Homo sapiens: one gene and its partner. The protein of the gene in region 1 interacts with the protein of each later gene in a biochemical or structural test. Each region holds a gene or a part of one and is shown in the gene's direction. Other genes may lie near its edges.

Region 1 (8,903 bases):
AGAACCCAGGAGGCAGAGGTTGCAGTGAGCTGAGATCACACCACTGTACTACAGCCTGGGCGACAGAGCGAGACTCTGTCTCAGAAAAAAAAAAAAATTATCCCTCAAAACTTTGTTCTCTCTAAAGTCTTCTCCATCCTAATAAGCAGAAGCCTCATTTTTCTACTTGCTCAAAACCCTGGAGTCATCCTTAACTCCTCTCTTTCTCTCCACCCTATTTCCAACCCATTAGGAAATCCTTTCAAACTACTTTCAAAATATATTCAGAATTTGATATTCTCACTACTTCCACTGCTACCAACCTGGACCAAACCATCATCATCACTCACCTGGATTGTTGCAAACACCTCCTAAATGCACTCCGTTCCTAACCTTACTCCCTTTCAGTCTAATGTGATCCTTTAAAAATCTTAGATCATGTTTCTTCTCTGCTCAAAACCTTCCAATGGTTTCCCTTCTGTATTAGTTAAGGCAATGCTAGCTCTGAAAGAGATAAATCCTAATATATCAATGGCATAAAATAGCTAATAGAAGTTCTACTTCTCATTCACAAAGAGTCCAAAAATGGTGTTCCTGGTTCAAAAACTGAGTGGCAGTTTCACAGGAACCTGGGCTTCTTCCATCTTGTGGCTCTGCCATCTGCAATACACAGCTTCTAGCCACAGAAAGAGAATGAGCTTGGAGAATTACACATGGCAGGTCTGTATGGCCAGTACTGGAAGTAGTGTACAACATCTCCACCCTCCTTCCTTCAGTCAGAGCTCAGTCATATGACCATACTGGAAGGGAGGCTGGGAAATGTAGTCTAGCTGGGTTCACAGAAAGAAGAAGAAACAATTTAGCAAATAGTCAGTCTTCATATCCTCTCACTCATCATAGCGAAAGCTAAAGTCCTTGCAATAGCCTAAAGGCCCTACATGGTGTCCCTCTCTCCCTCCCTCATTCCTGTTGCTCCCTCTCTGACCTCATGTCCTCTACTCTCCTTGCTACTGTACTGCAGTCCCACTGGCTTCCAGTTGCTCCTCAAACACTTCAAACATACTCCCAACTCAGGGCCTTGCCTTGGTGTTCCCTTTTCCTGGAATGTTCACCACCTTCAGATGTTCACTCACGTGTCACCCTCTCATGAGCTTCCCTGGCCACCTTTTCTGAGATGGCAACGCCACTCCTGATAGTCCCAACACTCACTGTTCTCCTTTCCTGCCTTATTTTTCTCCTTATGTAAGCAGACAGAGAGGGTCTGTATTAGTCCATTCTTGTATTGCTATAAAGAAATACCTGAGACTGGGTAATTTACAAAGAAAAGAGATTTAATTGGCTCAGAGTTCTGCAGCTGTACAGGAAGCACAGTGGCTTCTGCTTCTTGGGAGGCCTCAGGGAAATTATGGCGGAAGGCAATGGGGAAGCAGATACGTCTTGCATGGCTGGAGCAGGAGGAAGGGGCGGGGGAGGTGCCACAGACTTTAAATGAACAGATCTCATTAGAAATCACTCACTATACAGTACCAAGCGGGGATGGTGCTAAACCATTCATGAGAACTCCGCCCCATGATCCATTCACCTCCCACCAGGCCCCTCCTCCAATACTAGGGTTTACAACACAGATCCAAACCATATCAGGGTCTCCAGGGATAAAAGGAATTCAATCAACTCGAGCAATCAGCCTGTTTTACAGCCTTCTGCCCTGCAGCCTGTTCTTCCCCAAACCCTGCATGGAATGTGGTCACCTTGTTGGTTTGAACCAGCTCCTTGCAGACCCTGGCAATTTATAGATGAACTGAGTCAACTTTTCCCTTGACCATGCCAAAGTCTCCACCCTAGGAGGAGCTATAGCTTCGTTGCCATAACATGCCACCTATGTTCTGGCATAATGACTCACTCGTTTGTGCCACTGGGACCCCTCCTCTACATGTGATTTTGCACTCTCTCCATCACCCTGTAAAACCCTCCTGTCACTTTCCCCTGGGGAGACACTGCTTTAGAGAACATTCCCAGTATCCTTCTTACATATGCCAAGTAATAAAACTGCTATTGATCACAAACTGCGTTTTGCATTGTTTGTTACTCACTAAGCGAACAAACCCTGGTTTTTCAGGTAACAGCACCTGTCACCACCTCTCATTCTATGTATGTTGCTTTTTTGTCTTGTTTATGGGCTGTCTCACCTACCTCTACACACCAGAGTATAAGCACCGTGACAGACTTAATTTTGTTCACTGTTGTATCCCCAGTTCCTAGAACAGTGTCTGCACACAGGAAACATTGAAAGTTCAGTAGCACCCATGAGCAGAGATGGGAAGCTTGGAGATGAATGTCAGCCTTTTATGGTGACACCATCATGCCGGCCCCAAGCAGTCCTTCAGTGCTGCTCTCACTCGATGGCCTCGGGTGCAGCTATTGGCGGCATTTCTAATATGTGTTGTCCCTCAGGTCCTTTTCTTCCTTCCTCCACCTACTTTCTAACTCTGGGGCTCCCATGAGGCCTAATCTGCTTTCGTCTCCTCAAAAAGTTTATCTGTTCTCATGGCTCCATCAGCCATCTGCTAGCCAACAACCCCTCCCAAATATCTCCTCCAGGCTCTTGGCTCTTTCTCTTTGGCTATTCCGCCATCACATAGACTTCCTATGTCTTGAACTCAATTGACTTCCCTCATTCCATGCACCTAGCTCATTCTCCTAGTCTCCCATGATTAAACCTTTTAACTTTTGAGTGCTCCTTCTTCATTTCTTTCATTCGAGTGGTCACTAAGCTCAGGACTTATTTCCACTTTTAAAATCTCTCTTGTGGCTGGGCACCGTGGCTCATGCCTGTAATCCCAGCACTTTGGGAGGCCGAGGCAGGCGGATCACTAGAGGTCAGGAGTTCGACATTGGCCTGACCAACATGGTGAAACCTTGTCTCTACTAAAAATACAAAAATTAGCCAGGCGTGGTGGCACATGCCTGTAATCCCAGTTACTTGGGAGGCTGAGGCAGGAGAATCACTTGAACCTAGGAGGCGGAGGTGCAGTGAGCCAAGGTCGCACCATTGCACTACAGCCTGGGCGACAAAAGCAAAACTCCATCTCAAAAAAAAAGAAAAACAAAACAAAACAAACAAACAAAAAAACTCTTGTATATAAAGGTTCATTTCCATTTCCCTTTCCCTTGCTAGGCCAGGCCCTTCTCCATTAGGGAACCTCAGGGTTGGAGGGCCCTATCTCTGGCACCCTCACTACCTGTTTAGCCTTTACTAGGACAATTCCAGGATGGATGGCGCACCATTAAGCTGAGTTCCTTGAGGACAGGGACGATGTCCTGTTTACTTTGGGTTCACCAGCACATAACACAGTGCCTGACCTTAAGGAGTTGTTATTTTTATTTTTTAAGAGAAAGGGTCTTGCTCTGTTGCCCAGGCTGGAGTGAAGTGGTACAGTCATAGTTCATTGCAGCCTCAACCTCCTGGGCTCAAGCAACTAGCTTGAACTACATGTGTGTGCCACCACACCCAGCTAATTTTTAGTTTTTGTTTTTTTGTAGAGATAGGGGGAGGAAGGGTCTCGTTATTTTGCCCAGGCTGGTCTCAAACTCCTGGCCTCAAGTGATCCTTAAGGAGGTATTTTAAAAACTGTTTTCGAAATAATGCCTCCTGAGGTAGCCTGTTTTATTGTTAATACCCATTAGATGGCTTCCCTGTAGGCACAAGCTTAGAAACTTTCCCAGGAAGACCCACAGTTCCCACTGTCTTCAGTTCAGGTTCCTCAAATTGACAAGATCTTCCATTACCTCTCCAAACTTACTATCCATGCTTTTCTTTCATTGTTTCCCCCCACCCCTTTTTTTAACCTTCCTCATTTGCTACCTGGCCTGAGAATTTACCTCCCACTCTGCCCTCCACTTGTCCTTATTCCTATTACTCTTCTTGCTGAATAGTCCATTTGGGACTTCCTTAGTCCAGCCTTAGTCATATCTTCCTCTGAAGCCTTCCCTGACTACCACCAAGGGTCACTGACACTCCTTTGAATGCCAGAAGGATTAGTTGTAAACCTTTCACGTTGACAGTAACTAGCTTGCTTTCATGAGCTTAACTGTTTCATGAGTTTACAACTTGTCTCAATTTGATTTTAAACTACAGAGGCTTTATGTGCTAAGAATGCCACAGGTTTACATTCCATTTGTGTTGAAGCTATAGTAGCCTTTATTTGATATTTGTTTTAATTTCATGACATGAAATTAAATTTTCAGGGACATGCAACGGGTTCGGCCCATTCCCTTCACTTAACATTACTGAGCTGGGCAGTAAGCTCAGAGTTGCAGATATAAAGATGAATAGACAGATACCTACCCAGGAGCTTACTCTAGAAGAGGACAGATGGATAAGCTACATTTTATAGCAGAATTTGGCAAAGTGTACTGAAGCTATAAACAGCTATGATGGTAAATAAGGTAAGAATTATGCTTAGTGAGGTCAGGGAAGGCTTCTAGAGCTAACATCTGAACTGGGACTTCTATTGGCAAGGCAGAAAATCAGGAAAACGCACTTATTCCTGGCAGAGGAAGCCTCTTGATCAAAAATCTTAAGAGATGAAAAAGGACCGGTTGTTAGGAAACAGATGATGGTGCCCAGAGCGCAAGATGAGGGGGAGTGTTGGGAGATGGAGCTAAAAGATACACTGGTGCCAAAGACTGAAGAGCCTCCTGTAGATAGCGCAGGGCGCAGCGCTGAAGGGAAAGAAAAAGTTGGGATTGTTCAATAAAGTTGGTGACTGATTCAGTCGGATTAATTCCGCCCTGGTGGTCTTGTGGGAATGAAGATAACTAGCAGGATAGTCTAAGAAGCCCTGTGGAAGCAGAGTCATGAGCTGTGAATGGGGACGTGGCGGCCACACGGCCGCGCCCACGCCACCCGCAGTACGGGGCTGGGGCTGGGGCTGGGGCTGGAGCCCGCCGTCCCAACAATCCCGGGGACGAGAGTTGGGCGGGAATCCGCTCCACGCAACTCGGCGCGGTCCCGGGGACGTGGCGCTTTCCAGCCAATCCCGGCTATGCGATTGTTAGACCAATGGCTACTCGGGGACGCTATGCGACAGCGGCGGGTTTGCTGATGATTGGTCGGGAGGCCGCCGGCGAGGCGGATGAGGGCGGGGTGCGGACCCGCTTCCGGTTGGGCGGTGCTTGCGCGCGTGAGCTGAGCCGGTGGGTGAGCGGCGGCCACGGCATCCTGTGCTGTGGGGGCTACGAGGAAAGGTAAGTACGGTGATGCCCAGCCCCTTCACCACTGCCTCATCTTTATTCGCTTTCTTTCTGTCCCCGGTCTTGTTCTTGGCGCGGCAGGGGACTGCCTCACTCGGTGCCGCTGTCTCTGCTGGCGCCCGGGTCCCAGGCCTGATGCTGCTGGAGATCCCGGGACCCTCTGTGTGCAGCCTGGGATGGAGGCCGCCGCCCGTCTTACCGCGCGCTCTGGGAAGGGGGCTGGTCCGGTGGAACTCTGTCCCGTTGGGTACTGTTCTGTGCCTGGTTTGCTGCGTCCTGGTCCTCCATCTCTAGGTCACGCCACTCACCGAGTCTCTGGCACCAGAGGGTCATTTTTTGCCTCCGGAAGGTCGGAGGGCATTTGGATAGTGTTATTGTAAGAGTTCCTTGCCGCCTCCACTCACCATCCTGCTTGTATCTGCCAGCTCCGCCCCAAGGCCACATCCCGACAGTAGGGTGCATCTGCCAAGGTCGTGTTCACTCACCTAAAGGGTGCAGAAACAAGGGGGGAGAGAACGAGTGACGACACTAGGTGATATCTATGATTTTAAAGAAAAGCTGAATGTTTAGAGCTTCCATATTTGGCTACGTACTTCAGTTAGCGACGGAAAATAGTTTTTAAAGCTTTATTGGGGAATTAATTTTTGTTACGTTTTTTGTTGCTTCTAGCCCCATATCCTACTGATTTTTAGCATGCTGCGGTCAGAAATAAACTTAATTCCCTATAGCTGCCGCGATTAAGCGTAGAGTGGCTTGCAGTTTCAAAAGCTGCTTTTGCATCAAGGCCCAAGCTCCGTGGGTCTCCTGCTAAAACTTTTGAGCCTGTGATCTGAATTCCTAAGTGTATAAAATTCTAGAATAGTGTCTTCGAGAATTGAGTTGCGTTCATTTTCTGGTGTGGACCATGAAGTCAACGTTAATGAATTGGGAATAAGGTGGCTTCTAGTTGTTTTTTGTTCTAGTAGCTTATTCAGCTTGGAGGCAGAGAACCTTGGAATCTCTGTTAAATTAGTCTGCCATAGAATGGAACTTGACACAAGACAAATGCAAGTTTGACCTCACTCAGTAGATTTAATTAACCAAATACCAAACGACAGTAATCACTGAAGAATTTATATAGTATAATCCAAATGAGGGACCAGATATAACCTCTAAGTTGTATTTGTCAAGAAAATGAGTTTGCCAAGACCTAATCTGAGGTTTTACTGTGATTGGGGGGTGGGGGGGTTCCAATAGGATTCTTTTGAGAATCACAAGTAGGAAAGCCATGAGCTCACAAAAATGTATTGAGTATGCCTGAGTGAATAGTACTCAATATAGCTTTGAAACCAACTCATTGTCACTCTCAATGTAATCATTGTTTGTTTTCATTCATCCAGTGATGTGTCAAGAAGTACTTATTGATAGCACTTAATATCCATTAGAGCAGTATTGGGATCTATATATTGGTGTTATTTTTTAAAATTTATTTATTTTAGAGTTGAGGGTCTCAGTATGTTGACCAGGTGGAGCCTTGAACTCCCATGCTCAAGCAGTCCTCCTGCCTCAGCCTCCCAAGTAGCTGAGACTAGAGGTATATAACACCACACCCTAGTACATTGGTGTTAACACAGATTTTCTGTAACGTAGGTATACCAGGGATATTGAAAGGACAGAGGTGTAGCCAAGGATAGCCACTGGAAATGCTAGCTAGGCCACAAGGCCCTAGATTCTCACTCTCTGAACTCTTAAGTATGGATGTTGCTGATGCAGTAATTTATGTATTAGAGTTAAGACAGCTGAAATAACACTTTTGCCTGTTCCTGGCTGATTGCCAGATCCAGTAAACGGAATTGGAAGTTGGAGAACACAGGCAGGCAGGAACCACATTGCTGCCAAGTACCGCCCAATTAATTCAGTAAGATGTATTAATCCAGTAAAATGTATTGGTATCAAAAAAGTGCAAGACAATGTATTAGGGACAATATAGGGGTAATAATTTGTATTAGAATGATATGTAGACATTCTTCCAGAAATGTCGATTCTAAAGGGGAGCTAAGGAGACAACTTAAGGTAACCTATGGTCATTGTTTTTGAGTGGTTCAGACGAGTTTTATAGAAGTTTAGATTGGATCATACCCTTTTTGTCCAAAAAGAGAAAAAGATAACAGATCACTTCCAGCTAGAGTGATCATAGTAGGTAGGTCTTCTAGGATCTTAAATTTATTTATAGACATCTGGCACTGAAGGAAGTTTGAGCTAAAATAACTACCAAATTCTCAACAGTGTCACGCATGTTACACATGCACAGCAAAATTACAACTAGAAACCAAGGCTCCTATCCCTACATTTCAAATAGCATTTCTCTCACAATTGATTATGTATTAAGGCTTGTCAACGAAAAGGAAACTTTTTTCTCTCAGAATTTCTAGAACTTTTTTCTTTAAAAAGTTTTTTATTCTGTAGCCAGAAAAATTTAAAGTTTGTGCTGGGTTGCTTTGGTTATAGAACTAATGAAGCTTGAGTAATAGTTTCAGACATTCTCAGGGTTTTTCTTCTGCAGCCAGATTTTACACTTCTATTATCTCAGCTGTCTTATAAATGTATTCCCTCCATCACACAATATAATTAGAATGTATTGATGAACAGATGTAACTTCATCACTAGAGAGACGTTAAATAAATTATGTGTTGGTATCATGACTTTTATCAAATCATGAAGGATGCCATCACTTTTATGTGATAGTCCATTGGTATAGTACTAAAGTTTGTAAGTAAAGAATGTCAGATAGATAACAAGATAACTTCATTTTCGAGATCTCATAACCTGGGCCTTAGTATAGTTAAATTGCTATCAGTCTGTTCCCTGTAATCTCCAATTGAAGTAGACAGTTAAACAATGAGATCCTGCTTTTGCTGCGTTATGGAGAAATAAATGCCTTTTCTGGTGAATATCCATCCAGCTCAGAGAACTGGAATTTTACTACCACACCCATTTCTCCCAATTGTTAACATTGAGCAATGGGTCTTTGGTCAACCATAATAACTGTTGGATCACTCAGTGTTAACGTTCTTGTGAAGTTGAATTTAAACATCTAAATTTCCCTGAAACAATTTAAGTATTCTGTGACCAATGGCACTTTACCAAAATTGAAAGTTTGGGCCATGTATTGCTCGCAATACTGGTCCAATGGATACACTATGGACACTAAGGACAAAAACTTCCTTGAAAGCTCTAAGTTCTTACCTGAAGGGTGGGGTAGGGAGAAGTGATAAGAATTTAGAGCTTTTAAGGACATTTTTGGATGGATCGAAGAAACCAATTCTTAAGACTCATTATTATTAAAATCACACTTAACCCAGTTAGGCTTTTCTCTTTATAAATTACTGGAACGATTCATGAAAACAACTTTATAGAAGACCATTATTGGTGACATACTAATACTACAAAAGGATGATAGCTACTGGATATATTTTCTGTTCTAATCTTTTGGTTTGTGTCTAACATGCTGTCCAATAAAAATATAATACAAGCCACATATGTAATTTTAAATTTTCAGGTGAAAATCTAAAACAGGTGAAAGTAATTTTAATAATGTTTAATCTAATACATATAAAATACCATTCTTTCAATATGAAATGTAACACTTATACCAATCGCAATTCACACTAGCCACATTTCAAGTGCTTAGT
Region 2 (7,231 bases), on another chromosome or scaffold:
AGTTACACTGAGTCCCTGCTGTTACATTTTTCTTCTTTGCACATCTCCTCCCAGAAGACTCAGGTATTATGAAGGGATTGTGAACAGCATGAAGATGGTTGTGGCCAGTGGGAGTCTGAATGGTAAATTTTATTTAAAAATTTATATTTAAAAAATGAATAAACATTAATCTCAGCAATGAAATCTATATTTTATAAAACTATAAAGATGGGTTGTTCAAAAAGAAGTGTAAGAGTGAAGGGATGTCAAGAAAGATAAAGACTAAGATACAGATATGGTGACATTCCAGAGAGCAGTTTCAGGTGAATTCTGAACTTAAAAGTGAGATTTCAGTGAGGTAATATGGTCGAGGTGTCTCACTAAACCTAAAAGTAGAAGATAAAAAAAAACTTAGCAGAGATTTTCTTTTATAAATGAACCCTGAAATTAGGAACAGAGAAATGAGATCAAGAAAAGACTCTTGTGTATCAGCATGACCTGGAAAGTGACTGACAAATTTGTGAAGCTGCCAGAATTGTGAAGGGGAGTTAGGAGTTCACAGCAGCCTGAGCCTGGCATTTAGAGTCTGAAAGAGCTACTTTGGTAGAAAGGTCAGTCATAATCTCAGGTGGACACTGATTTTTCTCTGTTGTTGGCTGAAATGTTATTAGGTAGGCAACAAAGACATGATAGCCACTCTGTCAAGAAGAGACAATCTATAAACTGTGTGGGAAATATGCATTGAATCCCAAGTCTCCTGTGGAGAATCTTGTTTCTCTCCTTTTGTTCTTTGTCAGAATTACTGAACCTTAGGAAACAAACTCCCTTCCTCTTTCTCCCTCCATCATTCCCTGAAACTTGGCTTCTGACATGCTCACTTTATGAAAATTACTCTTTCAAAGGTTACGACTGAAGTTTTTATTGCTAAATCCAGCATGCATTCAACTTAGATCTCTCTGATGCATTTAATACCACTGGATACTGCTTCCTGGACACTTACACTGACTTGGTTTCCATGACACCACACGCTATCCTCTCTGCCAAACATAATTTTTTGTCTCCCACCTCCCTCCCCACCTGCCATTCTTATCTTGCCTCTAACACCATGAATGTGAATGTTTCCTCAAGTCAGTGGTTGGCTCCCTGACCTTTCCTCTCTTCTCTTTTCCACTGAAAGACAAAATTCATTTTTGTTTCATTATCATTTATATGTTGATTTCTCTGAAACCTGTATTTCTAATTCCAAGTGGCCGTCACATATTACAAATTCTCCAAGACCTTTCTTACACATAAGTCATACTATCATTTCAAATTTAGCATTTGAGGAACCAAGTTTACCACCTACCCTCCACCTCCTCCAAGTGAACATCCTCTCAATTGTCCTATCTGTACTGGCAGCACCATATTTTTTTTCCACATGATTTGCAGTAAGAAATATGGTTCCATATTCTATATATATATTTTTAATTCTCATCTTTGTCCTTTTTTGCACTTACAATAAGACCCTGCCATCAGTCTAAGTTGTGTATCTTTGGTTTTATCCAACCACATATCAGAGTGATAATCAGTTACTCTTGATGCATGCCTCCATTGCCTCTTTCCATCTAAATGCTCTCAAATTCCCTTACAACTGACAGAACACACAGCAAATAATTCTTTACTGAACACAAATCTTGTTCTACTCAGTCTCTTCCTATCCAGTCTTTCCCATTGGTTACTGTGACTTAATGTCTTCTACAAACACCTGAGGTCTCAGAAACCATCTTTAGGTTATTCTTTAATCCCTCAGGTGATCTCCAGTTATATCTCATACTTCTGCTTTTTTGAAGCTCCGAGTCAGATCCTCTTTCTGCTACTGCTGATGCCTTCTTCCACTATGCTCTCTGAGGGTAAACTTTGTTGCATGCCAATTAATGTAGCCAAGACAACTCTGTTTGTGGCACACAGGTGGACCTGTTTCTCTTCAGCATACTGTATCTTTTCTTCCCCCAGCCTCAACTCTTCCATAGCCATCCAGACAGGAGCCGCCACCTTGACCTGAACTTTCACTGGCAGGATGGCACCCAGGAGGATCCAGCAACAGTGAGGATTGGCTCACTGTGAGGATTGCACCCAGTTCTGAAGACCCAGGATTCATTTTCCTACATCCTGACATCAGAACTTTTCCTTTCTACAATAAAAATAATTCTCAGTTTCCTCTTTGACAACTCTTGAAGTGCAGGCTGTTCTCTTCCAAGGCCTGAGAAGCATATTCTGGGGAAGGAAACTAGACAACAGAATCAGACTCCACTTTTTCTCCCTTTTCCAATTATACTGTAGACCCTACCTTCCAACCAGGGTTTCCTTTTCACAGTGTATAACACAACATTTTCATATTCAACTGCAAACCCTTGCACTTGGCCCCAACAGCTATCTAAAGCCGTTATCTCCAAGCTCTCCCACCATGAGTCTAAGGCTGTGTCACTTATCCCCAAGACCTGTTCCCTAGGCTTATCTCCCATTAGAGAAGACTCTCTTTGATATTAATTTGCAAACCATTTTTTGTTAAGATAATGATTATTTATTTATTTATGAAGAAAACTAGAAGCATCTGGTAAGCCCTGTGTTCTCTGAGTTTTATGGCACTTATTAATTAACATCTGGAAATGTTAGGGAATTGCATAGTCCCTGGGTTCTCAAGAAATGTTACCTTCCTGCTCCTACTTCCAGTATTACCTTATCATATTATTCAATTGTATTCTACTTTTTGTTGCTAATAAACTGTTTCTTGTAAAAAAAAAAAAATCCTCACACAAAGTTGAGTCCTTTGATTCCACAATATGTAACAGTTTCTTTTCATGTGTAAGAAAAATTGTTAGATGAAACCAATGATCTAAATATAAATAAGTCCTAATACCCAGATTCAGTCTAGAAGGGATTCAAGATAAATACAATAATATCTATAATATGAGACAGATAGTGGTAACAGCCATAAAGGCTCTAAAATGATGGTAATAATAACCATCCAGATACTGTTCCATGTACTTTATGTATATCATAGTATCTCATTTATCCTTAGAGAAACACTGTGAGGTAGATAGTTTTATCTTTGTTTCACAGAGAAGGAAACTAAGGTTCAGAGGGGTTTAGTGACTTGCAGAATAGTCAGCCACTAGTAAATGGCAACATTGGAATTCTATCCCAAAGTCTTTGATCTTAACCTTATGGGAAGTACGAAAGAGGGGAAATAATGTATAGTTGGGATATTAGAAAAGTCTTCATGAAGCAGATTGTTTTTTATTTTTTATATTTTTGTATAAATTCAAGGCATACAAGTTTAGTTTTATTACATAGACAGCAATAACATAATAGTGAAGTCTGGGCTTTTACTATAACCATCACCTAAATAAGCTTGAGATTAATGTGGAAGAATGGCTGGAATTCCTAGAAACAGGAAAAGAAAATAAGAGAGAAATTCAAGACAGTATGAAGGCACTGAATAGAAGTAATGAAATCAAGAAAGCCAGGAAGGTATAAAGAACAACAATTAGAGGTGTTTGACTGGAGAATAGGATTAGATTCTGAGATAATAGCCAGGTTAGAGCCAGATTGCAAATGGCATTGGCTTCCAAGCAAATGGTCTGTATTTAATTCAGGAGTCAATAGATGCATAATCCCAACTTTATCACTAACCTATACTGTGCAACAAGCCAGATAAGGCTTCACAACCTGGGATTCCATTTAGAGAAAAAAAGTAGAGAATGGAAACTCCCCAGGGATGAGAATAGGAAGGATACTTTGAACAATGATAGAGAAAGTGTATTCTTGGTGGCAGTGATTGTGTCATTGAAAAGGCTGATTAGGTCTGTGGTGAGCTAACAGAAGAGAGAGTGAACAAGAGGCTAAACAGTAGGATGAGAAACAAGACACCATATAATTCAGGGATGAGAGAGAAAGAAATAATGTGGCTAGAAAGAAGAACTTCAGTTTGATATCTCAGAGGCAGAGAAGGTTTGAGTGGTGGTTAATAAACTGTACAGAGAGAGAATGAAGGAGACATAGAAAGAATGAAGGTGGAGATCTCTGGGGCTGTGAGAGAGCCAGTGACCACTGAATCCCCAGCACCTAGTGTAGTAACTGAGAGCTAGTGAATAAATGTATTAGTGGGGTCATCACCAAAGATGGATTAGATATACACTCAATGACCAAGGACTCAAAGAAGAGGAGAGAAAAACTTGGGGAGATGCTGACATCTCTGCAGGTAGCATGAAGTAACCAGAAAACAAGTCGTAATGAGAAATGGAAAGATCTAGGATAAGGAAGCACCATGATATGCAAACGAAAAAAAAGCACTGAGTAGAAGTAGCAGAAAAATACTAAGCTTCATGGGGACAGAAAGTTTATTCTCCAAGTCCCTCTTTCCCCTTAGCTTTGCCTGGATGTATTACTTGATGTTGAATTAGTCAAAGTTGAAGGCACTTTTTAGGGTCTTCAGCAGAAAGCAGAATCCTAGAATATCCTACAAATACAAGACAACTTGAGAACTATAAAAGAAAGAAAAGGCCTTGTTCCCATAGCCCACAAGAGGGCTGAGCTCAGCGATACACTCTGTGTGGCTCAGGAGCTTCTGGCAGAGCACAGAGCCATCAGAGAGGGGGCCCAGAGAGCAGAGAGAGGCTCTGCTGACATGGCCAGCCCAGCGCCTCATCCCATCCATAACCCTGCTGCCCTGCAATGACTCTCTTCCCAGCAATAAAATCTGGGTCACAGGAGTTGGAGCTCTAGCCATCACTTGTCTCTAATAAATAACTCCCATTGATTTTCCAGCTCAGGGCTCACCACTCCTTCACCGTAAGCGCCAGGAGGCAGACCTGGAAAATCACTCACATATTATTGGTGCTCTTCCTCCCCCATCCTCACCCAAGGTGCATATAAACCCTGAATAACCTGAAGTCTAAGGGCATGAATATCAGACGCTAGGGGGACAGCCACTGTGTTGTCTGCTACCCTCATCCTGGTCACTGCTTCTGCTATAACAGCCCTAGGCCAGGAATATGAACAAGCCGCTGCTTTGGATCTCTGTCCTCACCAGCCTCCTGGAAGCCTTTGCTCACACAGGTAAGGAGGTGAAGGAATGGTCAAGAATCATAAAGTGAGAAAATAGGTTGAAGCTGAGATATCTTTTCCCTGCATTTATACTGAAGGTCATTATCTTTCTTTCTTTATCCCGCAGACCTCAGTGGGAAGGTGTTTGTATTTCCTAGAGAATCTGTTACTGATCATGTAAACTTGATCACACCGCTGGAGAAGCCTCTACAGAACTTTACCTTGTGTTTTCGAGCCTATAGTGATCTCTCTCGTGCCTACAGCCTCTTCTCCTACAATACCCAAGGCAGGGATAATGAGCTACTAGTTTATAAAGAAAGAGTTGGAGAGTATAGTCTATACATTGGAAGACACAAAGTTACATCCAAAGTTATCGAAAAGTTCCCGGCTCCAGTGCACATCTGTGTGAGCTGGGAGTCCTCATCAGGTATTGCTGAATTTTGGATCAATGGGACACCTTTGGTGAAAAAGGGTCTGCGACAGGGTTACTTTGTAGAAGCTCAGCCCAAGATTGTCCTGGGGCAGGAACAGGATTCCTATGGGGGCAAGTTTGATAGGAGCCAGTCCTTTGTGGGAGAGATTGGGGATTTGTACATGTGGGACTCTGTGCTGCCCCCAGAAAATATCCTGTCTGCCTATCAGGGTACCCCTCTCCCTGCCAATATCCTGGACTGGCAGGCTCTGAACTATGAAATCAGAGGATATGTCATCATCAAACCCTTGGTGTGGGTCTGAGGTCTTGACTCAACGAGAGCACTTGAAAATGAAATGACTGTCTAAGAGATCTGGTCAAAGCAACTGGATACTAGATCTTACATCTGCAGCTCTTTCTTCTTTGAATTTCCTATCTGTATGTCTGCCTAATTAAAAAAATATATATTGTATTATGCTACCTGCATTTGTTTAGTGCTTGTCATAGTCCCATATCTTTATCTTATGTCTACTACTTATCTATCTACTAATTGGTGTTTCATTGGTAATTGGTGTTTCATTATCCTGAAAACTCCAATTGCCAAGTACGGGGAGGAAAACCTGTAAGTAACTAGAAAGATATATCACAAAGCCAGAGCACTCAATGAGCACAACAGTGGCAATACTTAAAAGCTACTAACAATCATTTTAATGACGATTCAAAATATGTGTGGAATTGTAATCACAATTCTCCTATTTGTTTTTCCAGCTACAAATCGATCAAAAAGGGGTCTGAGGTTGCATCAGGTAGACAACTATAATGATATAAGTAAGCAATAGTTGAGAACCTGACAGCAAGTAATAAGACAGGAAGAATAAAACTAGAAGAAGTCAGAATGAAAACCAAAAAAGTATGAGACTGGGATCATTTTGTATGAAGACAAACATAACTTTATGTCTCAAAAACCTCAGTAGGACTGTACAATGCTTGATTTTCATAATGTTCTCTTGATGTCATCAAAAAATATTATACTCTGAATATTGCTCACATGAATATGCTGTCTAAAATTCTTCCATGGATTCACACTTCTTACAGGACATGATTTAAACCTCTAAATATGACATTGCCCTCTATAACCTGGTCCCAGTTACTCTCTCTGAAATGTACACAGAGAGTATACACAGAATACTCTCTGAAATGGACTTTCCATGTACATTTCAGATACAACTCTTAGCAGAGCAAGCCACATCCTAACTATCACACTGAAAAATAATTGTCAGATGCTATTACTAGTAGTTATTTTTATGGTTATGAAAAGCATGGAACACAGTGCCTGGCACATCGTCAACAGATATAAGTTGCATTCCCAGAGAAGCAAGGATCCCAGAGGGAGTTTGAGCTACATATATGGGAAATAAGACAGGCTTTTCTCACTGATAATAAGTAGAGCATGTAGTCAGTGGAATCAGAAAGATAGCATCCAGAAGCTTCAGGATGGTAACCAATGTCATGATTTCAAACTCATGAGGCCATTTGGCCAGAATGAACAGAGGCAGTCACCAGATATGAAGAAGTAGGATAGAATCTGGAAACTCCATAATGGGACAATGGGGTGGAAGCAGAGGAGAGCAGACAGAACCTGGGAAGATTTGCTGAAGTACTTAAATGGAGCAGCAGGGGCTTCATAAGAACATTTCAACCTCATTTCTGGTGAGGTGGTATGATGGTTTGGATATGGTTTGTTTGCCGCCACCA

What was found.
Region 2: the proteins of CALU (region 1) and APCS form a complex in vitro, tested with the Homo sapiens proteins (one study listed by BioGRID).

Annotation. Positions count from the first base shown.
Region 1 is NC_000007.14:128,734,207-128,743,109, forward strand, and holds the start of CALU (calumenin isoform a precursor), read left to right. Parts: upstream 1-5,152; 5' UTR 5,153-5,226; intron 5,227-8,903. UniProt on the Homo sapiens protein: Involved in regulation of vitamin K-dependent carboxylation of multiple N-terminal glutamate residues. Seems to inhibit gamma-carboxylase GGCX. Binds 7 calcium ions with a low affinity.
Region 2 is NC_000001.11:159,582,910-159,590,140, forward strand, and holds APCS (serum amyloid P-component precursor), read left to right. Parts: upstream 1-4,916; 5' UTR 4,917-5,012; coding exon 5,013-5,076; intron 5,077-5,191; coding exon 5,192-5,799; 3' UTR 5,800-5,956; downstream 5,957-7,231. UniProt on the Homo sapiens protein: Can interact with DNA and histones and may scavenge nuclear material released from damaged circulating cells. May also function as a calcium-dependent lectin.